7 separate regions of the Homo sapiens genome follow, and regions 2, 3, 4, 5, 6 and 7 are each linked to region 1. The links come from fine-mapping of genetic effects on gene expression. A gene starts in region 1. Each other region holds a variant in brackets. All regions are shown on one strand. Distances are between the middles of the regions.

Region 1 (4,284 bases):
GGAACGGCTGGACCTCATCAATTTTCCATTGTCGAGTTGTATTTCCACCTACTGTGGCGGCTGCGCCAGTCAGGGTTCCTGCCCCACCCTTCTTCCGCGCAAAACACACCCAGCTCTAAGATTAGACCAGGACAGCTTTCCGGGGGGACCAAGACAAGGGGGAAGGCAGAGAGAGAGGAGGGAGGGAGACAGAAAAACCAAGACCGGAAGGGGACAGGGAGAGAGACACCAAGAGACAGAGGAGGAGAAATGCAGAGAGACTTGAACAGAGACAGAAAGAGGGAGAGAGAAGAGAAACAGAGAAAAGAGAGAGAGAATGAGATAAAGAGGAGGAGGGAGGGAGAGGAGAAAGAGAGAGGGCCTCCTCCCACTCTGTCCTTCCAAATTCAGGCTTTCCTCGTGGGCCCTTCCTCAAGGTCTAAGTGGCAAAGAGGTCACTGAAGGAAGCTAAGTCCCCTCTTCCTCAGCGGTTCTAAAGGCCCCACTGGCTATGCCCGCTGGTCTTCCTAAGTCATAAGCTATGGCCTCGAGCCCTTGGGCTTCCCAGCCCAGCTTCCTCCTTTCCAAAATGAGGACAAACAGGAGTTAGAGGGCCTGAGAGCCGACGCCTCACCAACACACCCAGGACAGCCCCCTCTACTCTCCCATTTATTTTCTTGACAGCCAACACCCCACTTAGCCATACGGAGTCCCTAAGTGGCACAGGCGGGCCGATGACAACTGTTTAAATCCAGCGCCCACGTTCAGTTGGGATATTCTGACCCACTCAGGGCTGCTCCATAAAGCAGCGCGTGTCCGGATGCAAGAGCACCGAGAACTCGAAACCTCTCTGTCAAGCTGCCCATTCGGGGTTAAGTTCAAAGACAGAGGACAAAGGAAACGGATAAAGCGTCCGATACAAGAATTACCCATTTCAGAGGCACAAGACGAAGAGCACAGGCGGTGTCAGGACATGTTAGGATCCGTCCCCAGCGCTGCCGTCCTCGTCCCCACAGCGCCCCGGGACACCTGTCCCCCACAGCCCAGCTGCTCCTGCAGCCCCTGGAGAAATCTGTACATTCCCTGCCTCTGGGCACACAGGGAGGCTGGCCTAGGGGAGGCCTGCAGGGGTCTTCGCACCCCGCGCCAGTGTCCCTGGGGCCGCTGCCAGGGAGGGAGCACGAGGTCCCCCAGGCGAGGTGACCCGCAGGAGGTTTTGTGACGTCGGACGGCCCAGGCCCCAGAGTGCTGTGTGTGCTGGGGGTGGAGGGTGGTCTCCGAGAGGAGCCGTCGGCATTTCAGGTTAGGCACCCGGCCGGTCGGGGGTACTTGCCTGGGCTGGGGGGCTGGGGAGTGCGCTCCACCCGGGAAGACCCGGGGCGCAGGTGCAGCCCCGCACGGGGACTCCGAGCCGAAGTAGCGGGTCAGGGCCCTCCCCAGGAGGTCGGCACCCAGGGCCCTTTGTCCTACTACAACGTCCCGGCCACGCCGCGCGCCCCTGTGGGCCGAGTCCCCGCCCGCACTCACTCACCCACGGTGGCCAGCGTGTCAAAGTCCTGCAGGCTGTACACAGGCGGCTCCGGCGACAGCGCCTCAGGGCTGGGGCAGAGCGCGGGCGCCCCGTCGGGGGTCTCCTCCGCCACCTTGCGGGAGTCGCTCTCCGCCGCGGCCGCCTGGGCCAGCCCGGGCGCCTCCATGGGGACGCACTCAGGTCCGGGGCACCGGGCCAGGCCGGAGCGCTCGGGGAGCCGGGCTTCCCGGGACGCAGCCTCGGAGGGCGGCGCGGCGGCGGCATCAACAGAGGCTCCCCATGCGCGCTCTCGCCTCCTGGTGCGCGGTCCGGCGCGGCTGACGGAGCGACGGGGACAATGGCTGGGCGGCGCTCACGGCACAAGCAGCAACGGCCCCGAGTGGGAGCAGCCGCCGGCCTCGGGGGGCGGGCACCGAGTGCGGGACGACTGCGGGGAAGGCGGGGGCCGCGGCCCGGGCTGGGGGGGGCGAGGCGGGGGCCCTGCGCATTCCGGGTCTCGCGCCCGCCGCCTCCTCCAGCTCGGTAGCCGCGTGCGCGCTGTTGGGGCGGGCGGAAGCCGCCTGGGCGTGACCGCGCCTCTCCCCGCCCTAACCCGGCCGCGGGGCTGGGGGCGTCGCCTTCGCGCGCGCTCCGCCCCCGCCCCGACCCAGCCCAGGAGCCGGAGACCCGGGCGTGCGGCGCTGGGGAGGTGCCCACGCCCCCTCCGCGCCCGGGGCACCCCTGGGGTGGGACCCAGGCTGACTTCTCCTCGGGGACGCACTGGCGGGCCACCCGCGTCGCTGCACCCAAGCCCGGAAGATGGGGAGGCGAGGGGGCCCGGGGACAGGGAGGGCGTAGCTCAGCAGAAGTGAAGTTCAAAACTAAAAAGTGAAACTGGCGTTTGGTGAAGAGAGGGGCTCGGATTAGCCCGGCTAATTTTTGTATTTTCTCAGTAGAGACAGGGTTTCACCATGTTGGCCAGGCTGGTCTGGAACTCCTGAGCACAAGTGAACCGCCTGCCTCGTTCTCCCAAAGTGCTGGGACTACAGGTATAAGCCACCACGCCCAGCCTCTGATTGGCTTTAAGTCATAGAAAATAGGATTGCTCAGCTGGCAATCTGCATACAGATCCCCTCTGCCCTCCCCCCAAAAAGTTCAGTACTCCTGCGGGTGCTTGTTTGGGACCTGAGAGAATTTGGAATGAGGGCGGATCCCCAAGAGGGGCTGCCGGGTCTTCGGGATGAGTTCAGCGTCCTGGTTTTGCTGTAGGACTCTGGTGATTCTAGATTTCTACTTGGAAGGGGCGGGGAAGGGCGGGCTCGACCCTGTGCGTTTCTTTGCAGCTTCCTGTGGATCTAGAATTCTTTACAAATAAACATTCCTTTAAAAAACTAGGGAAAGACAGATTTGAGAGATCGCCCGACCAAATGTAGTGCGTGAAACTTGATTGGTCACTGTTTCAAACACCCCGGCGACAACCCTATAAAGAATTGTGCAGAGGCATTTCAATTTCAGAAACCCCAAAGATTTTTTTTTCCTGGCTTAAGTGTGGCTCAGGCAATAGTTGGACATACTTATATTTAAAACCCATATCCGTGTGGATTTGAAATGCAAATATAGCTAGATATTTGGTCACCCCTTTCCCCAGGGAAATGCAGACAGTGCTTAACTTGCGGGCCTGGCACGGCCTGGACGCTGCGCCCCTGACCCGCGACCAGGGCGGCCCAGGCTGCCGGTTCGCCGACCACAGTTTGAGCAGCAAGGGGTCAAACTGCAAACGCCTTTGTTTTGAGGGATCTCAGCGATTCTGCGATTGGAGGGGGTCTCCAGTCCCTCAGTCCGCAGGTCAGGGGGGCTTTCCGAGAGCCAAAGCGGCCTCTAAGTCAGAACGGACACATTTTTAGGGGGACCAGGCCGAGCCATCCTTCCACAGCTAACGGGGAGGGGGAGTCAGGAAGTCTGAACCTGGCTCAGGCTTTGGATTTCTGGCCCCTGGCTGCCAGCCTCGCCCAGCCTCCACCTGCATTTTGTGGGTGGCATTTCCCCCCGGGGGTGACACCCGCTCCCTATGCTCTGCAAAATCCTGAGCTGGAATGCAAAACATATGCGACACCAGCAGGCCCCTGCCATCCCCTGAGCCTGGTTAGGACAGGTCACGGCCCTGCCAAGCTTCACCAGCAAGCCGCGCAATCCCTTGATCCTGGTTAGGACAGGAAACGGCCCTGCCAAGCCCTGCCTGGCCGAGGGGTTCAGGGCCAGCAAGGAACGCGCACTCAGGAAAAGTTCGTGTCTCCCCGCGGAACGCGCGCCCTCTCCACTAGGGCCTGACCTTGGAAATGCAAGGCTGCGGCCTCATAAAGTCCTTTTAATCAAGGCCCGGGTTTCACACCCAATTAAGCAGATGTCCTTGCCTGCAAATTGCACGCAGGAAGAAGAACGTGGCACAGATTTGCAGCGTTAAACTCTGCTTGAGCTGCTGGTTGGTCTGATTCCACCGAACCCACCCTGAACTTGACCGCATAGCTACCTCTTCTTATAAATAGACCCTGCACGTTTCACAACACCTTGCTTGACAAAACAGCTTTCATCTGGAAGGATCATAAAAATCCTTGAGAAACCACAGCCTATTACTTGAGAGACAAAAAAGGAAAATCCCTGTGAGTTAGGCATGGAAGGGTCATTACCGCCTTAATGAAGTGGCATTAATTTGCGGTGGAGTCAGGAATTGCTGAACTCTGCCATTCGGAAGGAATAAGTCCCTGACCCTAAACCAGAATGAGCTATAAATTCAATAC
Region 2 (4,284 bases), 24 kb after region 1:
AATCCTGAAGTTGGCCAGGCGGGGTGGCTCATGCCTGTAATCCCAGCTCTTTGGGAGGCCGGGGTGGGCAGATCACTTGAGGTTATGAGTTCGAGGCCAGCCTGGCCAACATAGCAAAACCCCATCTCTACTAAAAATATACACGCACAAAAAAAATTAGCCAGGCATGGTGGCACACACCTGCAATCCCAGGTGCTTGGGAAGCTGAGGCATGAGAACATAGTGAGACCCTGTCTGTACAAAAATTAAATTTAAAAAAATTAGCTACAAGTAGTGATGTGTGGCTGTAGTCCCAGCTACTCAGGAGGCTGAGTGGGGAGGATCATTTGAGTCCACGAGTTGGAGGCTGCAGTGAGCTATGATGGTGTCACTGCACTCCAGCCTGGGTGACAGTGAGACCCTGTCTCTAAATAAACAAACAGAAAAATGATACTGTGTCTCAACAATTGACAAAACAATTACACTGTATTAGGTATTATAAGTAGAGATGGCTTAAAGTGTATGGGAGGATATGCCTGGGTGATATGCAGATACTGCATCGTTTGCTACAAGGGGCTTGAGCATCCTTGGATTTTGATATCAGTGGAAGTCCGAGAACCAACTCCCTGAGGATATTGAGGGCCAGCTGCACACACAGATGAGAAGGAATTAGGCCACTCAGTCAGTCTTCTCCGAAAGAAGTCTTTGTTCTGCCAAAAAGACAAAGCCGGTGTGTTCTCAGGCTGGCAAGACCCTCCCACTTCTCTCCCTCGGGGAGAGCAGACCTGGGTACCTACCACCTTTGAGTTGATGTTCTCTGCCTATAGCCCTTCCCCAGGGCTCTCTGCCCCAGCCCCCTCCTCCTCCAAGCCAGCACAGGCCATGCACCCCCTCCTCTGCGCAGAAGAGCCTGGGATGCAGGGGGAACAGTCAGAGAATAGTCTAAACCACGTGCAAAAATGCAGGCCTGGTGACTTCTGCCCCTTGGGGCGGTCTTCCCACATGGGACTGTTTGTGCCATGTTTGGTCTTTTACCCATGTGGTTGGAGATACTTTGAGTACAGGGTCAAAGGGACTCATTTCCACGTGCCTGTTTTTGTCTTCAGCAAATGGCTGGATTCCCTGTTTAGGATCTGGGGGCATCTCGCTCTTGCTTCCAGCTCTCCAGTGCATGGATACTTTCCTAAAAGTAGACAAAATGTCAGTTCTTTCCAAATTCACTGCAGAGAATGGAGGAGAACAGAGTAGCCTTCCCACATGGAGAAGTTTTCTCTTTTACGCCCAGCGCCCATTGCATTGACACAGACAGTTTCGGTTTCCCAAGAAAACGTTTTCAAGCTGCCTTCATGACTCCTTGGAACTCAAATGCGCAGCTCAGAAGCCGCGGGATGCAGCGGATGCGTCACTAGAGGTACTTGAAAACTTCAGTAACACGCTTATCCTAAAGGAGAAGAAATGGCACAGAAAAGTATGCTAAGCGTCCCACTCAAGAAGTTAGAAAAGGAACAGCAGAATTACCCAGAACAGTAGAAGGAAATAAGTGAAAACCAGTAGAATTCACAAATTAGAGAAGAAAATGAGAGAAGATGGAAGTAGCTGAAGTTAGAAATCTTTTTAATTTTAGTGAAATTAATTTTAGTAGAATCGCCTCTTTTAAGTGTTAAAAAGCATTTAAGCATTTAATTGCTTCTTTTAAATGTTCATTTAAATAAAATTAGTTGAATTATATTTAATTACTTATTTGTAGTACATTAACTAGTTTTTTTATTTTATGTATTTTAAATACAATTAGCTTTTTATTTTTTATTAACATTTAATTTTAATAAACTTCATTTTACTTTAAATCAAATTTTAATTTATAATCAAGTTAAAAATAAACTACAATAAAAAGAGTAGAATGAATAAAATCTGGTAAGATTGCAGATAAAAAGACCAGTCTGGCCAAAATGGTGAAACCCTGTCTCTACTAAAAATAGAAAAAAATTAGCCCGGCGTGGTGGCAGGCACCTAATCCCAGCTTCTCAGGAGGCTGAGGCAGGAGAATCACTTGAACCCAGGAGGTGGAGGTTGCAGTGAGCAGAGGTCACGCCATTGCACTCTAGCCTGGGCAACAAGAGCAAAGCTCCATCATACACACA[A/C]AAAAAACAGAATATGCCAATGAATAACATTATGAAGAAAAAAGAAATATAACTCCAGATGTAGCAGAGTTTATAAAAAAAATAAGATGATATTAGGAATAACTATCGCAATGTGTTTAAAAACTTCGTACACAATGGACACATTCATAGAACAATATATTTAACCAAACTGACTCAAGTAGATATAGAATATCCAAATGGTATTGTAGAAATTTAATACATTGAATGAGTGGTTAAAAAGCTTCTCACTAAGAAAATGCTAGACCTAACTGGTATTATCAGGCAGCAGTAAATTCAAGTATTATTTAAGCTCCAGCAGACAAAACACAAAGAAGCAACATATGCAAACTATTTTGAGGCCAAGAATATTTTGATATTCAAACTCAGCAAACTCAACAAAGAAAGCATGGGAAAAGAAATTATAGACCAATCTCACTCTTTGTGAGGTACAAATGTTAGGCAAGTTTCAACAATAGACAATCTATGATTGTACTTTAAATATTTACAGATTAAAGGAGAAAAGAAAACAAAATGGAAACAAAATATTTCTTGTATCAATTGATACAGAAAGTAGCTGTGATAAAACTGAACACCCATTCAGGATTTAACAAACTAGGAATAAATACAAACTTCCTTAATCTGATAAAAGCTTTCTACGGAAAAATGTATGTCATACTAAAGAGTGGGATATTAAAAGTGGTCTCCTTAAAGTCAAGAACAAGTTGGGTGTGGTGGCTCACGCTTGTAATCCCAGCACTTTGGGAGGCTGAGGTGGGTGGGTTGCTTGAGCCTAGGGGTTTGAGACCAACCTGGGCAACATAGTGAGGCCCCATCTCTACAAAAAATACAAAAATTAGCTGGGTGTGGTGGCTTATACCTGAAGTCCCAGCTACTTGAAAGGCTGAGGTGGGAGGATTGCTTGAACTTGGGAGGTCGAGGCTACAGTGAGCTATGATCATGCCACTGCACTCTAGCCTGGGTGAGAGAGTGAGACCTGTCTCAAAAAAAAAAAAAAAAATCAAGAACAAGTCAAGGAAGAACATTCAGAAGAGGAAATCTAAATTACAAATAAACAAATGAAAGCTGCTCAGCTTCAGTAGTAGTCAGGGAAGGAAAGTTAAAACCACAGTTGCTATCTCCCAGTACCAAAGCTGAGCAGACAGAGATGCACTGGAATATGTATACTCTGCTGGTAGATGTGGAAAATATTACTGCTGCTTTGAAAAACCATGTAGAATTACTTAGTAAAGATGAGGATGTGCCAATGACACAGCAGTTCCACTCTGGTTTCTTACCATAGAAAATCTTGTACAAATGTGTAATAGGAAATATACATGAAATTAAATTGCTTATGATGTCATTGCTTATAGTATTACAAGATGGGTGTATTAGTCCATTTCCACATTGCAGATAAAGACATGCCTAAGACTGGGTAATTTATAAAGAAAAAGAGGTTTAATGGACTCACAGTTCCACATGGTTGGGGAGGCCTCACAATCTTGGCAGAAGGCAAAAGGCACGTCATATATGGTGGCAAGCAAGAGAGAATGAGAGCCAAGTGAAAGGCTTTTTCCTTATAAAACCATGAGATCTCTTGAGACTTATTCATTACGATGAGAACGGTATGGGGGAAACTGCCTCCATGATTCAATTATCTCCCATCGGGTCCCTCCCACAACATGTGGGAATTATGGGAGCTACAATTCAAGATGAGATTTGAGTGGAGACACAGCCAAACCATATCAATGAGAAACAATCCAAATGTTCATGATGTTTAAAAAAATGTGGGATATTCAGATCATGGAACAATATGCAGCAAAGAACAACAGAAACACAGCTACCTACTTCAGTGGTGTAATTCTTGAAACAATGGTGAAGGAAATAGCTTGAAAAAAACTCCATACAATGTCATTATGATTATATAGAGATTGGAAACAAGCAAAGTGGGGAAATGCAAATTAAAACAACAATGAGATACCAATACACATCTGTGAGAATGGCCAAAAGCCAGAACACTGACATCACCAAAAGCTGATGAGGTCGTGGAGCAACAGGAATGACCATTCATGGCTGGTGGGAATGCAAAATGGTACAGTCACTTTGGAAGACAGTTTGGCTGTTTCTTACAAAACTAAATATGTCCTGGCATATGATCCAGCAATCACTC
Region 3 (4,284 bases), 34 kb before region 1:
TGATAAATGAAATTTTATATATAAATAGCTCACATATACAATAGTAAAATTGTATATATGAAAATTTGCTTAGAGGGTAGATCACATTATATTGTTTTGTCTTTTTTTTTTTTTTTTTTTGAGACAGGGTCTCTCTCTGTTGCCCAGGCTGAAGTGCAATGGCACAATCAATAGCTCACTGCAGCCTTGACCTGCCAGGCTCAAGTGACCCTCCCACCTCAGCCCAAATAGTTGGGACTACAGGCGTGCACCACCAAGGGCGGATAATTTTTTAAATTGTGACTGGGTATTTTTGACTGGTTTGAGAAGGAAAAAAAAAGACCACAACCATACAATGGATTTCCTTCCAAGAGTCTGGAATGCCATTGATTGCACATGGTAACGTGAAAAGAAAAAGTTGTACTTAAGCTACCAATTTTACTTAGAGTATTTGCTGTAAACTAAAATCCCCATGTTGTAAAATATCTAAGCTAATGAATGATGAATTTACTAGCTTATAGGGCAGACTGGGAAGGGAGGAGGAGAAGTAACCTTTGCTTTTTAAGTGAAGTTTCCGATACTGAATATTTTATTATGGCAGAAATAGAAAGTGAACTACAAGATAAAGAAAAAGTGTAAGAAGGAAACAATGTCAATAGCTGACAGGTGTTAAATATTTCTTTAAAAAAAGTAAACAAATAATGAAATAGTAACACATTTTTAAAGTATATTCTCTTAGTTAATTTGGAAATAAAATAGGTTTTATTACAGTACAACATGGTGTGGACAAAATTAGGTGGAATCAGGTCAAAGACAGGAAGTGGGAGAAGGGCTTTGAGGACTGTGAACTGATACAGTTTAGGTGTTTGACTATGGCCACTGATGTTTCAATTGGATAAAACACAATTAGGAATCAGGAACACTGGCATCCAACCCAAGCTTATCCTGCCATTGGACCTATGAAATGGGCAACAGAGTAACCTTTTAACCTTTTAGTCTCCTGTTGCTCTTCTTTCCAACAGAACTTGCATATTATTAGGAAACATTAAATTCTTGCCACACCCTAAAATTCTAATAATGCAATGAATATGGTCCTTGACTTTTCTTCCTCTATCTGGTTCCTTCCTCCTTATTTATCTTTCTCTATCACCCACCCCAAGGAACCCATTCATTACTTGGCTGTGTTTACTGCATAACATTCTGTCTTAGTACTTGTATTTGACCCTCAACAGAGAGAATTCTCCATGCCTACTTTAAGAACAACAGCTATGACTCAACAGATTTTTTACACTTCTGTGACTTCTTTAAAGCTTTCTCTGAGCTGTGTGCATTATAAACATACAAAACTCAAAACACGTTACTTATGCACTGCAGCGGATCTTTGCGCTACCCTGGGAGATATTGTCAGTCCCGCCAACGCCACAATCAGACTGCAGAAGTATGTCGGTAAACAACCTTACTCAAAGCAGACAGAAGTGGCATGCTGTAATGTTTAAGGTTTATCAGCTTAAGTGCACAGAAGACAAAGGCAACATTTAATGGTGCTGGTAGATCTTCCCCGCTTGGTGTTGGAAGGCTCTCCAGTACACATTCCCCAGTTATCATTATCCCACTTGAGGAGAAAATGTCTATTTGTAGCCTTCTCTGCAGCTAAGGGTGGCCATCTGACCCAGCTTTGCCCAATAAGACATAAAAAAAGAGTGTTTTCAAGTGTTTCTAGGCAGGTCAGCTCTTTCCTTCCTGATAAGGGAGATCTTGAAGGTAAGTGGTCCATTCCCCACCCTAGAGATCCCCTCCATCTCTCTCCAAGCTAAGTAGTAGTGTTATGCACGAGGGAAATCAGATGTGGAGTTTATGTCTTTTCTTTTAATTTTAGATTCAGGGGGTCCATGTGCAGGTTCATTACATGGGTATATTGCATGATGCTGAGGTTTCGGCTTCTAATGATCCCGTTGCCCAAGTAGTAAACAGTTTCTAATAGGAAGTTTTTCAGTCTTTTCCCCAC[T/C]CCCTCCCTTCCTCTTTTTGGAATCCCCAGTGTTTATTGTTCCCATCTTTGTGTCCATGAAGTACTCAGTGTTTAGATCCCACTTATAAGTGAGAACATGCAATATCTGGCTCTCGATTTTTTGCATGAATTTGTTTAGGATAGCAGCCTCCAGCTGCATCCACTTTGCTGCAAAGGACACGATTCTGTTCTTTTGCAGGGCTGCAATGTGGAGATTAAAGTCAAAGCTTTAAGGGGAAAGCTTAAGTATGGGTTCTACAATCCCTTACCCACAGTGGCTAAAGCTAAAGGCTCTGAATACTCAAAGTGTCTTCATCAACACACCTGGCCGCAAAACTGGACCTTGCCTAACGTGAGACTGTTCAGGCTTGATCCTCCTTGGGGTGAATATCTACCTATTTCACTACAGAAATATTCTTGTCTTGATAACAACATCCAGCCCAGACTCTGCTGAGGGTGTTGTATAATTAAAAAGGACATGCACCCATTCTCATCCCAAATTTAGAAAAATCCCCAAATTCCCAAATATACCTGATCTATACATTTCAGAGACTTAGAAGGACCATGGCAATCTCGGGAAGGTGTGGCTACTTTTAAGGTGGGCACGCCCTTTTTATAGCAGGTGCAATACAGTGGGCTTTTCCTCCAACATTCAAAGAGTTGTTTCTCCAGCCAAGTGCCAGACGAGGAAGGTGGATCAGATTTATGAGCCATTCTATGTGTGCAATTCTGATCTGTAAACATTAATGCGGGGTGGACTCAGGTCTCCTCTCTCCCACTGGAGAACCTCCTGCTTTTTGAAAGCCTCTGACAGTGTGGCCACTCTCTCTGCATTCCCTCATCCATCTATCCCTCCTCCCCTACCCTATCCATCCTTCCCAAGCCCTTGGGTCCAACTCACACACAAACACATCCTGGCCTGTTGTTGTTGTTGTTGTTGTTGTTGTTGTTGTTACAGAGTCTCACTCTGTCGCCCAGGCTGGAGTGCAATGGCGCAATCTCAGTTCACTGCAACCTCTGCCTCCTGGGTTCAAGCGATTCTCCTGCCTCAGCCTCCAAAGTAGCTGGGATTACCGGTGCCCGCCACCCCGCCTGGCTAATTTTTGTATTTTTAGTAGTGACAGGGTTTCACCATGTTGGCCAGGCTGGTCTCAAACTCCTGACCTCAAGTGATCCACCCACCTCGGCCTCCCAAAGTGCTAGGAGTACAGGCATGAGCCACTGCACCTGGCCACATCCCAGCTTTCTGTCTGGAGGGATGGGAAGAAGGAGAAAGACGACCTCCACACTCCCAATAAAGAGCAAACATCATAAACTTCAACTTTCCCAGAAAAATGCCATGGGCATCTTCTGAGCTCCACCCAAATACAGGCATGTGTAACTGTAAACATACACATACACATTACGGTCACCAAAAAATGACAGCCTTTATCCCGAATGTTTAGACAACTCAGCAGAACTAAAATATTAGGTGAATCACCATGACCATGGAAAATGCTGAAAGGTTCCCTTGTTAGTGAAGACTCACAACTGGCGGCTTGGGGGCTGGGGGGAATCTACAGCCAGGCACCGTAGCTCGCAACTGTAATCCCAGCACTTTGGGAGGCCAAGGCAAGAGGATGGCTTCAGGCCAGGAGTTCTCGACCAGCTTGGGCAACACAGCGAGAGCCCCTTGTCTACAAAAACATAGAGATCTCATCCCTATTAAAAGAAATTAGCCAGGAGTCATGATGCACTCCTGCAGTCCCAGCTACTGGGGAGGCTGAAGTGGGAGGATCACTTGAGCCCAGGAGGTGGAGGCTGCAGTGAGCTATGGTTGCCACCGCACTGCAGTCTGGGCAACAGAATGAAACCCTGTCTCCAAAAATAAATAAATAAAAAATAAATAAGGCCAGGCACAGTGGTGCACACCTGTAATCCCAGCACACTGGAAGGCTGAGGTCAGAGGACTGCTTGAGCCCAGGAATTCCCGACCAGCCTGGGCAACATGGTGAGATCCCTATCTCTACGAAAAAATACAAAAATTAGCCAGGCATGGTTGTGTGCACCTGGAGTCCCAACTGCTCAAGAGGCCGAAGCAGGAGGATTGCTTGAGCCCAGGAGGTTGAGACCAGCCAGGGCAACATAGTGAGACCCTGCCTCTATTTAGAAAAGAAATAGGCCGGGCACAGTAGCTCACACCTGTAATCCCAGTGCTTTGGGAGGCCAACATGGGAGGATCGCTTGAGCCCAGGAGTTTGAGATCAGCCTGGACAACACAGTGAGACCCCAGCCTCTACTAAAAATACAAAAAAATTAGC
Region 4 (4,284 bases), 99 kb after region 1:
TTATCAGTCTTGAGGGGGCTGCTACAACATTCTATGGAATGAGAGAGCATTGCTGTGTCAGGAAGTACATACTATTTTTTTCTGCCTCTTTCTCTACCTTAAAAGGATATGCTCAGAATGAGTTGAAATATGGCCATTTTTTCCCCTGAAATCGAGAGCCAGTTGTTGACTTGGAATCATTCAATGTCTCCATTTGTTTTGGGTTAGATTGTTTGAATGGAGGATTCTACTACCAAACACTCATAAGATGGCTTTGAGCAGAAACAAGGCTGATCAGCCGGTATGTACACAATTCTTGGCTTTACAATATTTCTTGGGACATTCTTGGGCTTAAAATATGGCCACACCTCTGCAGTGGTAGGTCAAACAGCCTCTGTCCCAGACCTAAGCTCTCTGGATGCCACACCCCAGACTGGGACTCCCAATCTCATGGTTCACGCTGGCAATGCCTGACCCAGGACATTATCTTGCCATTGAGACCAGGGTCCTTCTCCTTGGACAGTTCCTGTAACTGTTATTGAGTATTTTGAACAGCATTGAATATTTTGTTGAATACTGAATATTTATTGAATATATTGAATATCTTGAATAACAGTCCAAGCAGAAATAAGTATCGGGACACTTTGTTCTCGTTGACAGTCTCAGGTTTCAGTTCTGGCCATATGAGTCTTGGGTGGTTCATTATTGTGAAGACTCCACAAAGTAAGATGGGTGTATGGTGAAGAATAATCAAAGGTAAATAAAGGCACCATCTCGAAGTGGACTTGCCATGTTGCATGGAAGCATGAATGTGTTGAGTCTTTTGTTGTTGAAAATGGTTCTAGGCTGGGCACAGTGGCTCACGCCTATAATCCCAGCACTCTGGGAGGCTGAATGTGTTGAGTCTTCTGTTGTTGAAAATGGTTCTAGGCTGGGCACAGGGGCTCACGCCTATGATCCCAGCACTTTGGGAGGCCGAATGTGTTGACTCTTTTGTTGTTGAAAATGGTTCTAGGCTGGGCACAGTGGCTCACGCCTATAATCCCAGCACTTTGGGAGGCCAAGGTGGGTGGATCACCTAAGGTCAGGAGTTCGAGACCAGCCTGGCCAACATGGCAAAACTGCATCTCTACTAAAAATACAAAAATTAGCTGGGCATTGTGGTGGGCGCCTGTAATCCCAGCTACTGAGGACGCTGAGGCAGGGAGAATGGCTTGAACCTGGGAGGCGGAGGTTGGGCAGCAGAGCCTCGGGAGGGGAGGAGGGGAGGCGAGAGGGGGAGGGGAGAGGGGAGGAGAGTTCTAGCATCCCCAAGTCTGCCCTTGAGAATGTGGTTTGAGAAGGGAGGTGGATTCTTTCAGTGGTGTTCACAGAGCAATTGAAACTTTAGATTTCTCAGAGTGAGCTAGTTTACTAAAGCCTACATATCTGAAAACATAAACACTTCTTCATTAAGGGTGCCCTTTAAGCCAGAAACAAACTCAACCACCAACCACCAAACCCACAAATGAGACAAAACCAAACCAAACCAAAAATCCAACAAATAAACAAACAAAAAACTTTCCCTGAGACAAACCACAGAACTTTATTTTGGGAAAAGAAAACATTTTTTTGTTGGTCAAACTATCAGCTCCTATGAAATACTCTTAGAGATGTTTATCCTGAGCTAGTTTTTTTTGTGGGGAGGTGCTGTTTACATGCTATGTTAAAAATAACACGCAAAAATTCACGAGACATTGATGATGATGATGGTTATACAAATAACGAGAATAATGATATTGGCATACATCATGTGAGTGGAAAAAAAAAGTTGATGGTGGTGATGACAATACGATCGAAACTGCTTTTGCTCCGTGGAAAGCCCTTTGAGATGGGGACCTGGCTGTGCAGTTTGCGGTGTATTTGCCTAAAACGCCATCTGGC[T/C]GCTACGTAGAGGAAGAACACTGTTTGCTTTTCTGGCCTTTGTTTTCATAATTCTTCAATTTCTCTTTATGCTCCTAAAAATTCTACATAATCCCATTTCGAACATTGCATTCATTCTCTTTTTTTTTCTCTTAGAAAACAATAAGGGTTTTCATTAAGAAGTAAGTCATAAGACTGCAAGAGAACAAATAAAACTCTTAAGAGGTCTCCCTCCCTCCCTCTCTCTCTGCAGGCTGGGGGTGGAGGATTCAAACGAAATTTTGCTTGAGAAAGTAGCCTGCTCGCTTCAGAAAATTGAATATTTTATTCAAAAAAGGTTAATTTTGCAGAACCAATTTGGCACACCTTTACATCATTCACACTACCTTCCCTGCCCCGTTATTTAGAGAACTCTAAGAAACATAATCTATACATGCACACAAAGTTGGGAACAGTAGATACTAGGGAATACTAGAGGGTGGAGAGATGGAGGGGCCAGGGCTGAAACACTACCTGTGGGGTGCTATGCTCAGTACCTGGGTGATGGGATCATCTGCATTCCAAACCTCAGTGTCACATGATATACCCATGAAACAAACCTGTACCTGTACCACTCAAATCTAAAATAAAAGGTAAAATTATATATAAAAAAGGAATATGATCCACAGAATGTATCAGACAAAAGGTGTTTGTTATGGTGGCTAATACACTTGGGGTTCAGAAAGTCAGTGGTGGCCACACACGGTGGCTCATGCCTGTAATACTAGTGCTTTGGGAGGCTGAGGCGGGAGGATCATGTGAAGCCAGGAGATCGAGACCTCTCTGCTACAAAAAGTAAACAAACAAAAATTGGCTGGGTGTGGTTATGCATGCTTGTGGTCCCAGCTACTTGGGAGACTGAGGTAGGAGGATCACCTGAGCCCAGGAGGTCAAGGCTACAGTGAGCTATGATTGCACCACCACACTCCAGCCCAGGCAACAGAGCAAGACCATGTCTCTTAAAATTTTTTTTTTAAAGAAAAAAAGAAAGTTGGTGGGGACGTGAATTCTAGAACTTTCTCTCCTCAAATATTTAGAACAGGTTGACATGGTACACAACGTTCTTAAAAGAGCTTAGCAAGAGGACGGAGGCTCAGCATTTGAAGGAAGCTGAGTGAGACAGATTAACTAATAAACAAGTCAAGTCACCAGTTAAGAATTGGTCCAGGCATAGTTGCTCATGCCTATAGTACCAGCACTTTGGGAGGCCAAGGCAGGAGGATCACGGGAGCTCAGGAGTTTAAGACCAGCCTGAGCACCATAGGAAGTCTTCATTTCTACAAATAATTAGCCCGGAATGGTGGCACAAACCTGTGGCCCCACCTACTCGGGGGGCTGAGGCGGGAGGATCGCTTGAGCCTGGGAAGTGCAGTGGCGTGATCATAGCTCACTGCAGCCTCCACTTCCCAGGCTGAAGCGATCCTCCCTGTGTCCTCACATGGTCATCCCTCTGTGTGTGGCTGTATCCTTTTATTTTCTTGAAGACAGGGTCTCGCTCTGGCCCAGCAAAGAGTGCAGTGGTGCGATCATAGCTCACTGCATCCTGGACCTCCTGGGCTCAAGCGATCCTCCTACCTCAGCCTCCTGAGTGGCTGGGACCACAGGCGTACACCACTACACCTAGCTAATATATATATGTTTTCTAGATACAGAGTCTCCTTATGTTGCCCAGGCTGGTCTCAAATTCCTGGCCTCAAGCAATCCTCCCGTCTCAGTCTCCCAAGTAGTCGGGTCTACCAGCACGCACCACCATGCCCAGGTAATTTTAAAACTTTTTGCGGCTGGGTGCGGTGGCTCATGCCTGTAATCCCAGAACTTTGGGAGGCCGAGGCAGGCAGATCACTGAGGTCAGGAGTTAAAGACCAGCCTGGCCAACATGGTGAAACCCCGTCTCTGCTATATATACAAAAATTAACCAGGCGTGGTAGAGGGCGCCTGTAGTCCCAGGTACTCGGGAGGCTGAGGCAGGAGAATCGCTTGAACCCGGGAGGCAGAGGTTGCAGTGAGCCGAGATTGTGCCACTGCACTCCAGCCTGGGTGATAGAGGGAGACTCCGTCTCAAAAAAAAAAAAAAAGAAAAAAAAAATCAAAAACTTTGTAGAGACAGTCTTGCTATGTTGCCCAGGCTGGTCTCGAACTCTTGGCCTCAATGTATCCTCTCGCCTGGGCCTCCCAAAGTGCTGGGATTACAGCACTTGGCTCCAGCTTGACCTTTGTTGGTAGAACTACTCAGAAAATATGACCGATTTAGAAATTGGGTGGTGCCAAGTAAACCCCACCCAAACCTATCCCCGCACCAGTTCTCATCTACCTTTTTCGCGTGTTGGGGAACTAGCAAGGCAGGGGCTGCCGCTCGCGGGGGCT
Region 5 (4,284 bases), 31 kb after region 1:
CACACAAGGCCCTTTTGAGGTATGGGATGCATGTTTTGATTTAAATTGCATTTATGTAGGTGTTCGTTCTATTATTCTTGAACTGTACAAAATACGATATACTCACCCATGAGTGAAAGGAAAAGAAAATAATTCTACCAGCTGATTTACTCACACTGTAGTGATGGGACTTTTTCAGCAATTTTGATGTCATGTGATTGCGTCAAGAAGTCAATCAGAATTTCAGAACTGGAACAGACCAGGAACAAAGATATCCATGAAGAAAATAACCTCAAAATTACAGTCAGTGGTAGGACTGTTGAGAACCAGCTTGTTTTTTTGTTTTTGTTTTTGTTTACATTTTCCCACCCTGTTTTGTGACGCAACACATCCTAGATACCAGTGGACATCCCTCAAAGGTGTTAACTTTCTCTACTCAAGAAGACAAGTGGACTTCATGTCATGTGAAGCTATTTTAAAATATCTTGTCCTTTTAAGAATGAAAACAACTTATTTTATGAGTCCATTTATTTTATTTATTTTTGAGACAGGGTCTCACTCTGTCACCCAGGCTGGAGTGCGGTGGTGCCATCACGGCTCAATGCAGCCTCTGTCTCCTGGGCACAGATGGTCCTCCCACTTCAGCCTCCTGAGTAGCTGGGACTACAGGCATGCACCACCACACCTGGCTATTTAAAAAATATTTTTGTAGAAATGGGGTCTTGCTATATTGCCCAGGCTGATCTTGAACTCCTAGGCTCAAGCAATGTACCCACTTCAGCCTCCCAAAGTGCTGAGATTACAGATGTGAGCCACTGCACCTGGTCATCCATTTTAATTATTTTCATGTACTTAATGAAATAACCTAAAATTCAACTAATAACCCAAATAAGACATACTATCAGGTCTTGGTAAGAAATGAGAGTCTTAGCTGGACACGGTGGCTGATGTCTATAATCCCAGAAATTTAGGAGGCTAAGGTGAGATGACTGCTCGAGCCCGGGAGTTTGAGACCAGCCTGGGCAACATAGTGAGACCCGATTTCTACAAAAAAATACAAAAACGAGCTGGGCATGGTGGCATGTGCCTGTGGTCCCAGCTACTCGGGAGATGGAGGTGGGAAGATCTCTTGAGCAGGGGGCTAAAGGCTGCAGTGACCCATGATCCAGCCACTGCACTCCAGCCTGTGCTACAGGGTGAGACCGCATCTCAAAAAAAAAAAAAAAAAAAAATGAGAGTCTTACCAGCCTGACCAATATGGTGAAACCCCATCTCTACTAAAAATACAAAAATTAGCCAGGCGTGGTGGCGCATGCCTGTAATCTGAGGTAGAGCCTGAGGCAGGAGAATTGCTTGAACCTGGGAGGCAGGGGTTGCAGTGAGCTGAGATTGGGCCACTGCATTCCAGCCTGGGCGACAGAGTGAGACTCTGTCTCAAAAAAAAAAAAAAAAAAAAAAGAAATGAGAGTCTTGAATATTAAAGCCAGTGTAGTACTTGCAATATAACATGATTTTCAAGTGGCACTTTAAAGACTTCCTTAATTCTTACTATTTCCTTGTAAAATTTCAGAGTCTAAAATGCATTTTATAGAGTAAAAGTAATAAAAAGTGAATTCATTTCTACACCACCCCCCAATCTAATCGTCTTCGTTCTCTCTTTCACACTTTCTCTCTCTCTCTCTCTCTCTCTCTATCTATCTATATATATATATATATATATATATATATATATCTCTTACGTACATATTCTGTTTAGTCCTCTCAGGCACTAATTTGGACGTCATCTTTATCTTCCTCTTGTTTTTTACAATGCAGAATCGGTCACCACATCCTCTTGACTTTGCTTTTATCAGCACCATCATGGTGGAGACTTTCCTGTCTATCTCTGTCATTCATCTCCTGCCCAGGACTACTTCAGC[C/T]CATGACCACAGACTTGCCATACCCTTCCTGTAGCTTTCTCTTTAAAGCGTCAACCCCACCCCCCACCACAGCTTCCAGAATCATTTTTCTTAGATATTGCTGAGGTCATCATGCAATTAATTACTCAGAAAAGCTTTCTGGTTCCGTTGGTGAAAAATATAGAGCTGGGAGCTAAATGACAAGAACTCATGAACACAAAGAAAGAAACAACAGACGCTGGGGTCTACTTGAGCGGGGCGGGTGGGAGGAGGGAGAGGAGAGAAAAGATCACCATTGGGTGCTGGGCTTAGTACCTGGGTGATGAAATAATCTGTACAGCAAACCCCTGTGACACATGTTTACTGATTAACAAACCTTTCCATGTACACCCAAACCTAAAATAAAAGGTAAATAAATAAATAGGCTGGGCACAGTGGCTCACGCCTGTAATCCCAGCACTTTGGGAGGCTGGGGCGGGTGGATCACTTGAGGTCAGGAGTTCGAGACCATCCTGGCCAACATGGTGAAACCCCATCTCTACCAAAAATACAAAAGTTAACCAGGTGTGGTGGTGTACGCCTGTAATCCCAGCTACTCGGGAGGCTGAGGCATGAGAATCGCTTGAACCCAGGAGGCAGAGGTTGCCATGTGCTGAGATCATGCCAGTGCACTCCAGCTGGGGCCATAGAGTGAGACTCAGTCTCAAATAAATAAATAAATAAATAAAAGATAGAACATGGGCTGGGTGCGGTGGCTCATGCCTGTAATCCCAGCACTTTGAGGGACCAAGGTGGGCAGATTGTTTGAGCTCAGACGTTTGAGACCAGCCTGGGTAACATAGTGAAACCTTGTCTCTAAAAAACATACAAAAAATAGCCAGGTACGGTGCAGCACACCTGTAGTCTCAGCTATTTGGGAGTGAGTGGTAGGAGGATTGCTTGAACCTGGGGGGTTGACGCTGCGGTGACCTGTGATCGTGCTACTATATTTCAGCCTGAGCAACAGAGTGAGACCCTGTCTCAAAAAAAAACAAAAACATATATGTAGAGAGAGAGCATCCCTGGTGTAGTGAACACTGTAGTGTGCTACTCAGTCCCTGCTATGAACATGAGTGCGTATGTACTGTTTTGCATCTCACTGCTTTTATTTCTTTGGGGTACATATTTGGGAGTGTCAGACTTTTTCTTAATCTTATTTTTTCTGGCACATTATCTCACCTTTACTCTCAGCTCTCTCCGGCGTCCATGAATCTAGATCTTTGCTTATTCATCACTGGTTAAAATTACAAGTAAGTTTGTCCAAGTTGTCGAGATGTGTTCATCTGGCTGCAAGGAGTAGGAGGAGAATTCTTCTGACAAGCACTGCTGTGCAAAGCTCCTGTCTCCAGCCCCGCCTGTGTCTGCACCTTGAGAGCCACCTGCTGTCTCCCATTCCTGAGATGGTTAAGATTTCTGGGACTTCTTGTTGGGTTGTCCTGTGTATTGCCATGAGTTCATTGCCTCCATCTCCGTCCTGCCTGCCATGACAGTTACTGCTAGCTTAGAGTCCTAGTCCATTTGGGCTGGGAGGCTTGTAGACAACAGATGTTTATTGCTCATGGTTCTGGAGGCTGGAGGTCCAGGAGCAAGGTGTGGCAGATTCAGTGTCTGGTGAGGGCTTCCTGGTTCATAGATGGCACCTTCTCACTGTGTCCTCACATGGTGGAAAGGGTGAGGGAGCTTTCTGGGGTCCCTTTTCTAAGGGCACTGATCCCATTCATGAGGCCCCACCCTCATGACATCAGCACCTCCCAAAGGTCCCACCTCCTAACCTCATGACTTTGGGGGTTAGCATTTCAACATAGGAATTTTGGGGGTCACACACATTCACACCGCAGCATCCATCTGCCTCCAAGCCTTCTAAAGGTCATCCTCGTCTTTTGTCTGCTGAGGGGGAAAAAGAGAGACAGACACCCATGCGCGCGTGCACACACACACACACACACACACACAAACACACAGCAAAGATAAACTATTTTGTTAAATTTGCTATGTGCTATGTACTATGTCTAACAGTAAGTCCTGGTTATTTGTTCATAAACCTGCATTTCCCATTAGACTATATCATCTGGAAAGGAGAATATAATGTTTCCCTCAGCCTTTTTATTTCTGACTCTCAGCATACTGCCTCAAAACAGGAGCGATCAGAACGTGTTCATTAAGTAGGCAGACGTGTCTCATCAATGCCAATGTTAATTAGCATCTAGAGGTCCAGGTATCTCTCCTACTGCTTAAACATGCTACATCGAAAATTAGAGAAATGAAACCAAGCTTGCTTCTATGTGTGAGAAAAGAGGGGATAAATGGCTTGAAATGAGAATGATATTTTTTCTCTTTTTCTTGAGACAGGGTCTTGCTCTGTTGCCGA
Region 6 (4,284 bases), 79 kb before region 1:
CCCAGGCCAGGCTGGGAAGCAGAGCTCTGAGTACAGACACTCATGCGATCTGCGCCAACCCTGCCGCCTCAGACGTTAACAACCTCCCGAGCCCGTCCTCCCTCACCTGCCCGCAGCGTTCTCTGTAACAGTAGTTGGGGGAGTTGTATTCCTGTTTCTCTCTGGGTTTGGGTGGCGACTCAGCTGTGTGAATAATGCACAAATACAGGAATGGAGCATTAAACTCCAGGAGGAAATGTGCCATACATACCTAAAAACATTTATGGAGAATATTAAACGAAGTGCTCTTGGACAGTAGACATTACATAAGATCATGGGAAAGGTATTAATAAGCGGAAAAAGATAAATAATAAGTGAGCACTAACTGATGATCTTGCCTGAAAGAAAAAGCAGAGACAGTGTGTGTGTGTGTCTGAGAAACAGCACTCCCCCGGACGCCTGGGCAGTGCCCTCTGAAACCCTCAAATTTCTGTCTCTAAACATACAGACTGCTTCCAATTCTTACCAAGTGGAGAATAAATTCTCATTATATGGCATTTGGCATTATTAAGCAAGTTAAATTGATCTGTGGTGACAGCTACACTTGCAAGGACAATCTGCTAATCAGCATGAATGCAAGCTCCAGATTTTCGCCTGAAAAATTCATGCCCAGGCTAGGCACAGTGGCTCATGCCTGTCATCCCAGCATTTGGGGAGGCCAACGCGGGAGGACTGCTTGAGCCCAGGAGTTCAAGACCAGCCTGGACAACACAGTGAGACCTCGTCTCTACAAAAAATTTAAAAATTATCTGGACGTGCTGGTGTGTGCCTGTGTTCCCAGCTACAGCCTCTGCGGTCCCCAGCTACAGCCTCTGTAGTCCCAGGAGGCTGAGGCAGGAGGATCGCTTGAGCCCAGGAGGTCGAGGCTTCAGTAAGCTATGACTGCACCACTGCATTCCAATCTGGACACAGAACAAGACCCTGTCTCAAAAGAAAAAAAAAAAAAACAAAAAAAACGCTCATGCAGTGGCTCACGGCTGTCATCCCAGCACTTTGGGAGGCCGAGGCAGGTGGATCACTTGAGCCTAGGAATTTGAAATCAGCCTGGGTAACATAGCAAGACCCTATCTCTACAAAAAAATTTTAAAAAATTAGCCAGGTACAGTGACGTGTACCTGTCATCCCAGCTACTCAAGAGGCGGAGGTGGGGGTTTGCTTGAGCCCAGGAGGTCCAGGCTGCAGTGAGCTGTGACTGCACCACTGCACTCCTGACTGGGCAACAGAGCAAAACTGTCTGCAAAAACAAAAAAAGAAAAATGAAAAAAATTTACACCAATTGTGCCACTAGCTCTATCATTTGCCAGTAAAATTTGAATGTAACCATTCCGCCTATTTACATCTTCCAGTAAAGTGGATGGTGCAGGCAGAGATACCCTGGGCGCTGTGAGCTGATGTTCTCCCTCCTACTCAGCTGGAAAAACACCCTCCTAAACTATCAGCTGACACACTACCTGCTCCAGTTCTGAGGACCGGGGCTGGCCTTGGAAGACAGGTGCTTTGGAAATGCATTCAAGAAAAGGAAGGCAGAGGTTTTTAGAGAAAAGAAGAAAGCCGTCACTAGAATTTCACTAGAATTTCATCCCACCTTGACTTCTTCCTCAAAAATCCTTGTCCCGATACCTTCAGATTAAAAACTAAAATTTAGGCCAGGCGTGGTGGCTCACACCTGTAATCTCAGCACTTTGTGAGGCTGAGGCAGGTTAATCACTCGAGGTCAGGAGTTTGAGAGCAGGCTGGCCAACATGGCGAAACCCCATCTCTACTAAAAATACAAAAATTAGCCAGGCACGGTGGCA[C/T]GCACCTGTAACCCCAGCTACTCGGCAGGCTGAGGCAGGAGAATTGCTTGAACCCAGGAGACAGAGGTTGCAGTGAGCCGAGATCGCGCCACTACACTCCAGCCTGGGTGACAGAGCAGGGGTCCCTCTAAAGAAAAAAAATAATAATAATTAATAAATAAATATAAAATCTGTGCTCCTCAGATGAATCAGGGAGGCTGAGGTGGGAGATGAGAAAGGGGAACTTGAGGGCCAGTTAAAGCGGAAGGAGCAGGCACTGGGGTGTGTGAGGGTTGGGGCAGAGTAGAGGGTGAAAATATAGCCCCGGGCACGTTGACTTGGGCATCACAGCAGTGGCCCTCAAAGTGGAGTCCCAGGGTGGCTTCCCGACCTCAGTTTAGGGATGGCTGAGATCGTTTTTCTGACTCCAGTTCAGAATAGTGATGAATTTTCTCCTATGCCTCAACTAAACAACGTGCCACGCAGCACAGCAGACAGGCTGCAGACAGAGGGAGGAGAGGCCAGCAGCCCTTGTGAAAGCTGGACACTAAAGAGATTCACAAAACCCAGAAAATACAGCCAACCTCCTCACAAATGTTTTCTCTCTTTTTAGAGACAGGGTCTCTCTGTCACCCAGGCTGGAGTGTAGTGACGAGACCACAGCTCACCGCAGCGTTGACCTCCCAGCCTCAGTGATCCTCCCACCTCAGCCTCCCAAAGTACTGGGACCCTGGGCGTGTACCATCATGCTCAGCTAATTGGTTTATTTATTTCATTTTATTTTTTGTAGAAATGGGGTCTCACTATGTTGCCCAGGCTGGCCTCCAACTCCTGGGCTCAAGTGATCCTCCCACCTCAGCCTCCTGAAGTGCTAGGATTACAGGCGTGAGCCACCATGTCCAGCCTGAATGGTTTTAATTCTAGAAAGTGTGGTTACACATTTTTTTCATTTAAAAATGCTATTTATGTTCTCCTCTGATTATTTAACTTCTCATATATATTATTTATGTATTCTGTTGGTTTATATTTCAGTCTCTACTTTAATTTCAAATGTAGTCAGCGCGGACAGCTGTAACACACAGAAATGAAAGTTCTGTGGGTTGTTAATAACTTTGAGCTGTGTGTTGAAGGGTTCCCGAGGCCAACATGTTTGAGAACCACTGCGCAATGCCTAATGCTCCCCGTGGAAGAGGCTCCACTGCAGCCAAATTCCACCTTCTCTAGGATCTTCTGCACCCTGTCTGCTATGCTGTATTGTCTTAGTTGACACCTATGAAGAAAATTCATCACTATTCAGATCTGTCATTGGAAAAATGATCTCACTCATCTGCTGAAACACACTTCGGGAACCCCATAGTCCTCTGGGATGCCACTTTGAGAATCACTGCTGTCACAACTAAGACAAGATGGCCCAGGGGCTTTCTCTTACCCTGCACTCTGCTGTATGTCTTGTGTGTCCCTGTGTTTTGTTCTTGATGCTTTAGCTGATTTTTTTTTTTCTTTTTCTGAGACAGTGTCTTGCTCTGTTACCCAAGCTGATGTGCACTGGTGCAATCTCAGCTCACTGCAGCCTCGACTTCCTGGGCTGAAGCAATCCTCCCACCTCAGCCTCCTGAGTAGCTGGGACTACAGGAACATACAACCACACCCAGCTAGTTTTATTTTTATTTTTTGTAGAGATGGGGTCCCACTATGTTGCCCAGGCTGGTCTTGAACTCTTGGGCTTAAGCAGTTCTTCTGTCTCAGCCTCCCAAAGTGCTGGGATGACAGGCATGAACCACCACGTCCAGCCTTTACCTGACTCTTGAGTTAAACTCTCTGGGAGAATAAAACCACAGAAATGGATGAGGAAAGAGAATAGGATGGAAGAAATCGGAGCTGAGCTTGGGTCCTTGGAAAGTGCATGAGTGATTTTGTTCCAGAATGTGCCACACAATTTTCATCTGACCTAAACATGTCTCATTCCATGAAAATAAAATCTGCATCATGATATGATCTCCTTCCTAATCACATGGCAGATTTTACCAAATAGATGGTTTTCCCTGTGCTTAGTGGAAGATTGAGATAATCACTTAAAGCAATAACACAGACAAGGCACAGTCTCACTTGATCCTGCTAAGAGTGGGAATCCAGCAAATGGAGCTGCGATAGGAAAGGTGCAGACACAGGCTGCGAAGGGAGCAGGAAGACTCTGACTGCAGGCCGGCTCCACTTGTATGTGCAGCAGTGCCCTCCCTCCAGCCACCAGAAGTTTCTGGGTTCAAGGAGGTGAGGAGAGCAGCTTGGGAGCATTGCTCTCAGAGGCAGTCAACACATACAAAATTTAGATGGTTTCAGAGCTGCTAATCAGTATAAAGAAAACAGATGGGCTGGTCGGACAGGGCATGGCCCAGGAGAACAGGGGAGGCCCCAGAGGGCTGTGGGAGCAGGTGACAGGTGAGCCTGCAGCATGTGCAGTGGAAGAGAAAGG
Region 7 (4,235 bases), 830 kb before region 1:
GCCTACAGATCCACAGGAATAAGTTATAGTATTTTTGTTCCTCAAAGCCACTTGGTCGAATCCTGCCAAAACCTTTGGCTGATGCTTGGAAGCACGAAACAGGTCCTAGTGTTAACGCGTTTTGGGGTGGAACTGTAGTTTGAAGCAGAAAGGGGTTTCTTTCTGACCACCACCCTTGAATTAGGAAAAGCAGAGCAATTCTTTCTGGTTTCATAGGCCTCTGCTCTTTAGTGTACAGTACCATTTTAAAAATTATTTATTTATGTATCTTTGGCCGATTACAGTGACTCACACCTGTACCTGGTACTTTGGGAGGCCAAGGCGGGCAGATCGCCTGAGGTCAGGAGTTCAAGACCAGCCTGGCCAACATGGTGAAACCCCGTCTCTACCAAGAATACAAAAATTTGTCAGGCATGGTTGTGCATGCCTGTAATCCCAGCTACTCAGGAGGCTGAGGCAGGAGAATCACTTGAACCCAGGAGGTGGAGGTTGCAGTGAGCTGAGATCACACCACTGCACTCCAGCCTAGACAACAGAGTGAGACTCTGTCTCAAAAAAAAAAAAAAAAAGAAAGAAAAATAAAATAATTAAATCATCTATTTTAATTATTTTATTATTTTTTATTTTTATTTTTTTGACACGGAGTCTCACTCTTGTCCAAGCTGGAGTGCAGTGGCCCGATCACCGCTTCCTGCAGCCTCCAACTCCAGGGCTCAGGTGATCCTCCCACCTCAGCCTCTCAAGTAACTGGGATTACAGGCATGTGCCACCACACCCAGCTAATTTTTTTAAACTTTGTAGAGGCAGGGTCTCATAGGAGTCTCACTATGTGGCCCAGGCTGGTCTCCAACTCCTGGCCTCAAGCATTCCTCCTGCTTTGGCCTCCCAAAGTACTGAGGATTACAGGCATGAACCACTGTGCCTGGCCCCCATTTTTTTTAATAGATCAAATGAGTTGCATAGGTTTACAAACTTGATGTCTTCTATCCCTGCTCTATCCATCATCCTAAGAAACAAAATGAAGTTTTTATTGGCACAGACAATATCTGTTGGAAGCACATTCGTGCAAATCCAGCTATACCTAGTATGTGACATGTACTGTGCAAGAATATACTTTACACGGGATTGTAGCATGCCTTGAGGATGCTTGTCTGGATTCCATTGCATAGTTGCTAAATGCTGATGCTCTGTGAGTCTGTCATTATTGCAGCATTCATGGCCCAACACTCAGCTGCACAAAAGAGCTTTTCTGTTTCTCTTTCCCTCCCTAGCACACTCCTCTTGACTATCACTACTATGTTTTGATTGTTCAACGTGTAAAACAGTCCAATTTATTATTTTTTTAATGTTTAAACTGTTCCTTTTTTTTTTTTTTTTTAAACGACACAGGGTCTTACTCTGTTGCCCAGGCTGGAGTGCAGTGGCATGATCATATAGCTCACTGCTGTCTCAACCTCCTGGGTTCAACTGATCCTCCCATCTCAGCCTCCCAGGTGGCTGGGACTACAGGCAAGAGCCACCATGTCTGGCTCAAATTGTACCAGATTTACCAGTGGGACTCTCCTCACTTTAGATGGATTCTTAAGTCTATGAACTAATCCCATTAGTCTTTTTAAATTTTTATTTATTTTTGTTTGAGACAGAGTCTCGCTCTGTCACCCAGGCTGGAGTGCAGTGGCACGATCTCAACTCACTGCAACCTCCACCTCCCGGGTTCAAGTGATTCTCCTGCCTCAGCCTCCCGAGTAGCTGGGATTATAGGCGCGTGCCACCACGCCTGGCTAATTTTTGTGTTTTTAGTAGAGACGGGGTTTCGCCATGTTGGTCAGGCTGGTCTCCAACTCCTGGCCTCAAGTGATCTGCCTGCCTTGGCCTCCCAGAGTGCTGGGATTCCAGGTGTGAGCCACCGCACCTGGCCCCCATTAGTCTTTGATCACTTCCTTGCTTCCTGGCAAAATGAGATTCTCCAGAACCATCATAGATTTTCTCCCCTCACACCTGGGGCCAGGCATTTCTCCAAGGTCTTATTTTTAAGAACAAGCCAATTTTTATGTTCTAAATTGACTTCACACCTCCTCAGGGAAACGCAGCCAGTAGTTTAAAAACATCTTTGTAACAAATGAACGCTAAGCCCCACATCTTCTCTCCTTATCTATAAAAGAGGGATTACAATACCACATGCTCATGGGAATTTTCTGAGGATAAAACGAGACAATAAACATAAAGCTCTTAGCACAGTCTGTGGGAACAATTAAGCATGAAAGCATGAGCTGCTGCTCTCATTGTCAACATCCGATTGAAATCTTGTTTTTGAGACAGGGTCTTACCGTGTTGCTTAGGCTGGAGTGCAGCGGCACCGTCAGGGCTCACAGCAGTCTTGACCTCCCAGGCTCAAGTCATCCTCTTGCCTCAGTCCCCCTAGTACCTGGGACGACAGACTTGCACCACCATGCGCAGGTAATTTTTTTTTTTTTTTTTCAGTAGAGACAGA[T/G]TTCGCCATGTTGCCCAGGCTGGTCTCGAACTCCTGGACTCAAGCGATCTGCCCACCTCTACCTCCCAAAGTGCTGGGATTACAGGTGTGAGCCATCGTCCCTGGCCTTATTGAGATCTTTAGAGATACTGCCAATAACTTGGGTTTTAAAAATTATATTGCTTGAGCCCAGGAGGTGGAGGCTGCAGTGAGCCAAGATCACGCCACTGCACTCCAGCTTGGGTGATATAGTGAGACTATGTCTCAAAAAAAGAAGAAGAAGAAAAAATTACCATTAAGATAAAAAATGTTTATGACTGTGTATGACGTTTACAAATTTAGCCAGCCTACGCAACAGAGCAAGACCCTGTCTCAAAAAAAAAAAAACTTAGAAATATTAGTAAACATGGTAGACGCCTGTTCATTAATTCTGCTTGAACAGGTGGTCAAGGAAAAGAAATGACTTGAATACAGCTAAGGGCTTTTATTCAGCAGATCCTCACCAGACGGCCCCTGTGCACAGATAATTGATTCACTGTGGCACAGCAGGATCTGAGTTTTGTAAGATGAGGAGAGAGGGGTACATGTTTTTGAGGACTGGCCCAAATTTCACTTTTCTGGCCAGGCGCAGTGGTTCTCGCTGGTAATCCCAGCACTTTGAAGGGCCGAGGCGGGTGGATCACTTCAGGTCAGGAGTTCGAGACCAACCTGACAACATGGCAAAACCCCATCTCTACTAAAAATATGAAACCTAGCCAGGCGTGGTGGTGTGCTCCTGTAATCCCAGCTATTTAGGAGGCTGAGGCAGGAGAATCGCTTGAACCTTGGAGGCGGAGGTTGCAGTAAGCCGAGATCGTGTCACTGCACTCCAGCCTGCGCAACAGAGCAAGACTCTGTTTCAAAAAAAAAAACAAAAACCAAAAAACAAATTACACTTTTCTTCATCTTCAGCTGTTGCAAAACCTGGCATCGTGTCCATTGGAGACTGTCGTTGCTGTGGTTTCAATACCTCTTTCATGGTATTATGGGTGCAATCCCTTTTCAGCAACTCTCAGAACAGTTTATTTTGCAAGGCTTTGCAATATGTCAAGGTTCAGGGGAAAGTGGGGGTAACAAAAAGGGAGGAGAGGAGAAAACGGAAGAGAAAAATATAGGAAAAGGAGGCAAGAGTTGAAGCAACATAAACTGGGGTCTCTCTATGTTTTATTGTAGTGCAAACACAAAACATTAAATTTATTATCTTAACCATTTTCAAGAGTACAGTTCAGGCCAGCTGCGGTGGCTCATGCCTGTAATCTCAGCACTTTGGGAGGCCACGGTGAGTGGATCTCTTGAGCTCAGGAGATGGAGATGAGCCTGTGCAACATGATGAAACCTCGTCTCTACAAAAAAAATACCAAAATTTAAAAAAGGGGGGGAGTAGAGTTAAGAGTTCAGTAGAGTTAAGTCTAATCACATTGCTGTGCATGGGTCTCCAAAACTTTTTCATCTTGCAAAACTGAAACTCTGTGCCTGATAGCAGTGGGGAGATCCGAGTTACCCTGAGTTACCAGTGGCGAATCTGTAGGGGTCTGCGGCAATTTCAATACTTGCCTCCTTGGAAGAAAGAATTTGACTGAGGGCGTAAGGCAGAAAAAGAGACCAAGGCAAGTTTCAAAGCAGGAGTGGAAGTTTATTTTAAAAAGCCTTAGAACAGGAGGAAAGGAAGGTACTCCTGGAAGAGATGCAAGTGCATGCCTGAAGGTCAAAGAGAGCGAGAGCGAGG

Evidence for each region. PIP is the estimated chance that this variant, and not a neighbour inherited with it, causes the effect.
Region 2: its variant is fine-mapped to the expression of PRKX in lung (TOPMed, PIP 0.99).
Region 3: its variant is fine-mapped to the expression of PRKX in whole blood (TOPMed, PIP above 0.99). The same link has a PIP of 0.9 or more in monocytes.
Region 4: its variant is fine-mapped to the expression of PRKX in whole blood (TOPMed, PIP 0.91).
Region 5: its variant is fine-mapped to the expression of PRKX in blood mononuclear cells (TOPMed, PIP above 0.99). The same link has a PIP of 0.9 or more in T cells and whole blood.
Region 6: its variant is fine-mapped to the expression of PRKX in whole blood (TOPMed, PIP 0.98).
Region 7: its variant is fine-mapped to the expression of PRKX in thyroid (GTEx, PIP 0.98).

What each region holds. Positions count from the first base shown.
Region 1 is chrX:3,711,578-3,715,861 of GRCh38, forward strand. PRKX (protein kinase cAMP-dependent X-linked catalytic subunit) reads right to left here and starts at 2,072. Exons shown (of 9, transcript NM_005044.5): 1 at 1,511-2,072. The coding sequence starts at 1,676. RefSeq lists enhancers at 166-295, 696-1,005, 3,337-3,984 and silencers at 1,176-1,455, 1,496-1,625, 1,646-2,375.
Region 2 is chrX:3,735,402-3,739,685 of GRCh38, forward strand. No RefSeq gene overlaps it. Among named protein-coding and RNA genes, the nearest start is that of PRKX, 24 kb to the left of the region's middle. The variant A/C (reference allele first, on the strand shown) is at 2,118.
Region 3 is chrX:3,677,227-3,681,510 of GRCh38, forward strand. The region is part of intron 1 of PRKX (protein kinase cAMP-dependent X-linked catalytic subunit); the gene reads right to left. Among named protein-coding and RNA genes, the nearest start is that of PRKX-AS1, 20 kb to the left of the region's middle. The variant T/C (reference allele first, on the strand shown) is at 1,985.
Region 4 is chrX:3,810,296-3,814,579 of GRCh38, forward strand. No RefSeq gene overlaps it. Among named protein-coding and RNA genes, the nearest start is that of TRI-GAT1-1, 26 kb to the right of the region's middle. RefSeq lists silencers at 1,409-1,478, 4,264-4,284. The variant T/C (reference allele first, on the strand shown) is at 1,903.
Region 5 is chrX:3,742,125-3,746,408 of GRCh38, forward strand. No RefSeq gene overlaps it. Among named protein-coding and RNA genes, the nearest start is that of PRKX, 31 kb to the left of the region's middle. The variant C/T (reference allele first, on the strand shown) is at 1,899.
Region 6 is chrX:3,632,285-3,636,568 of GRCh38, forward strand. All of the region lies in intron 4 of PRKX (protein kinase cAMP-dependent X-linked catalytic subunit), which reads right to left. Among named protein-coding and RNA genes, the nearest start is that of PRKX-AS1, 25 kb to the right of the region's middle. The variant C/T (reference allele first, on the strand shown) is at 1,836.
Region 7 is chrX:2,885,023-2,889,257 of GRCh38, forward strand. No RefSeq gene overlaps it. Among named protein-coding and RNA genes, the nearest start is that of ARSD-AS1, 18 kb to the right of the region's middle. The variant T/G (reference allele first, on the strand shown) is at 2,492.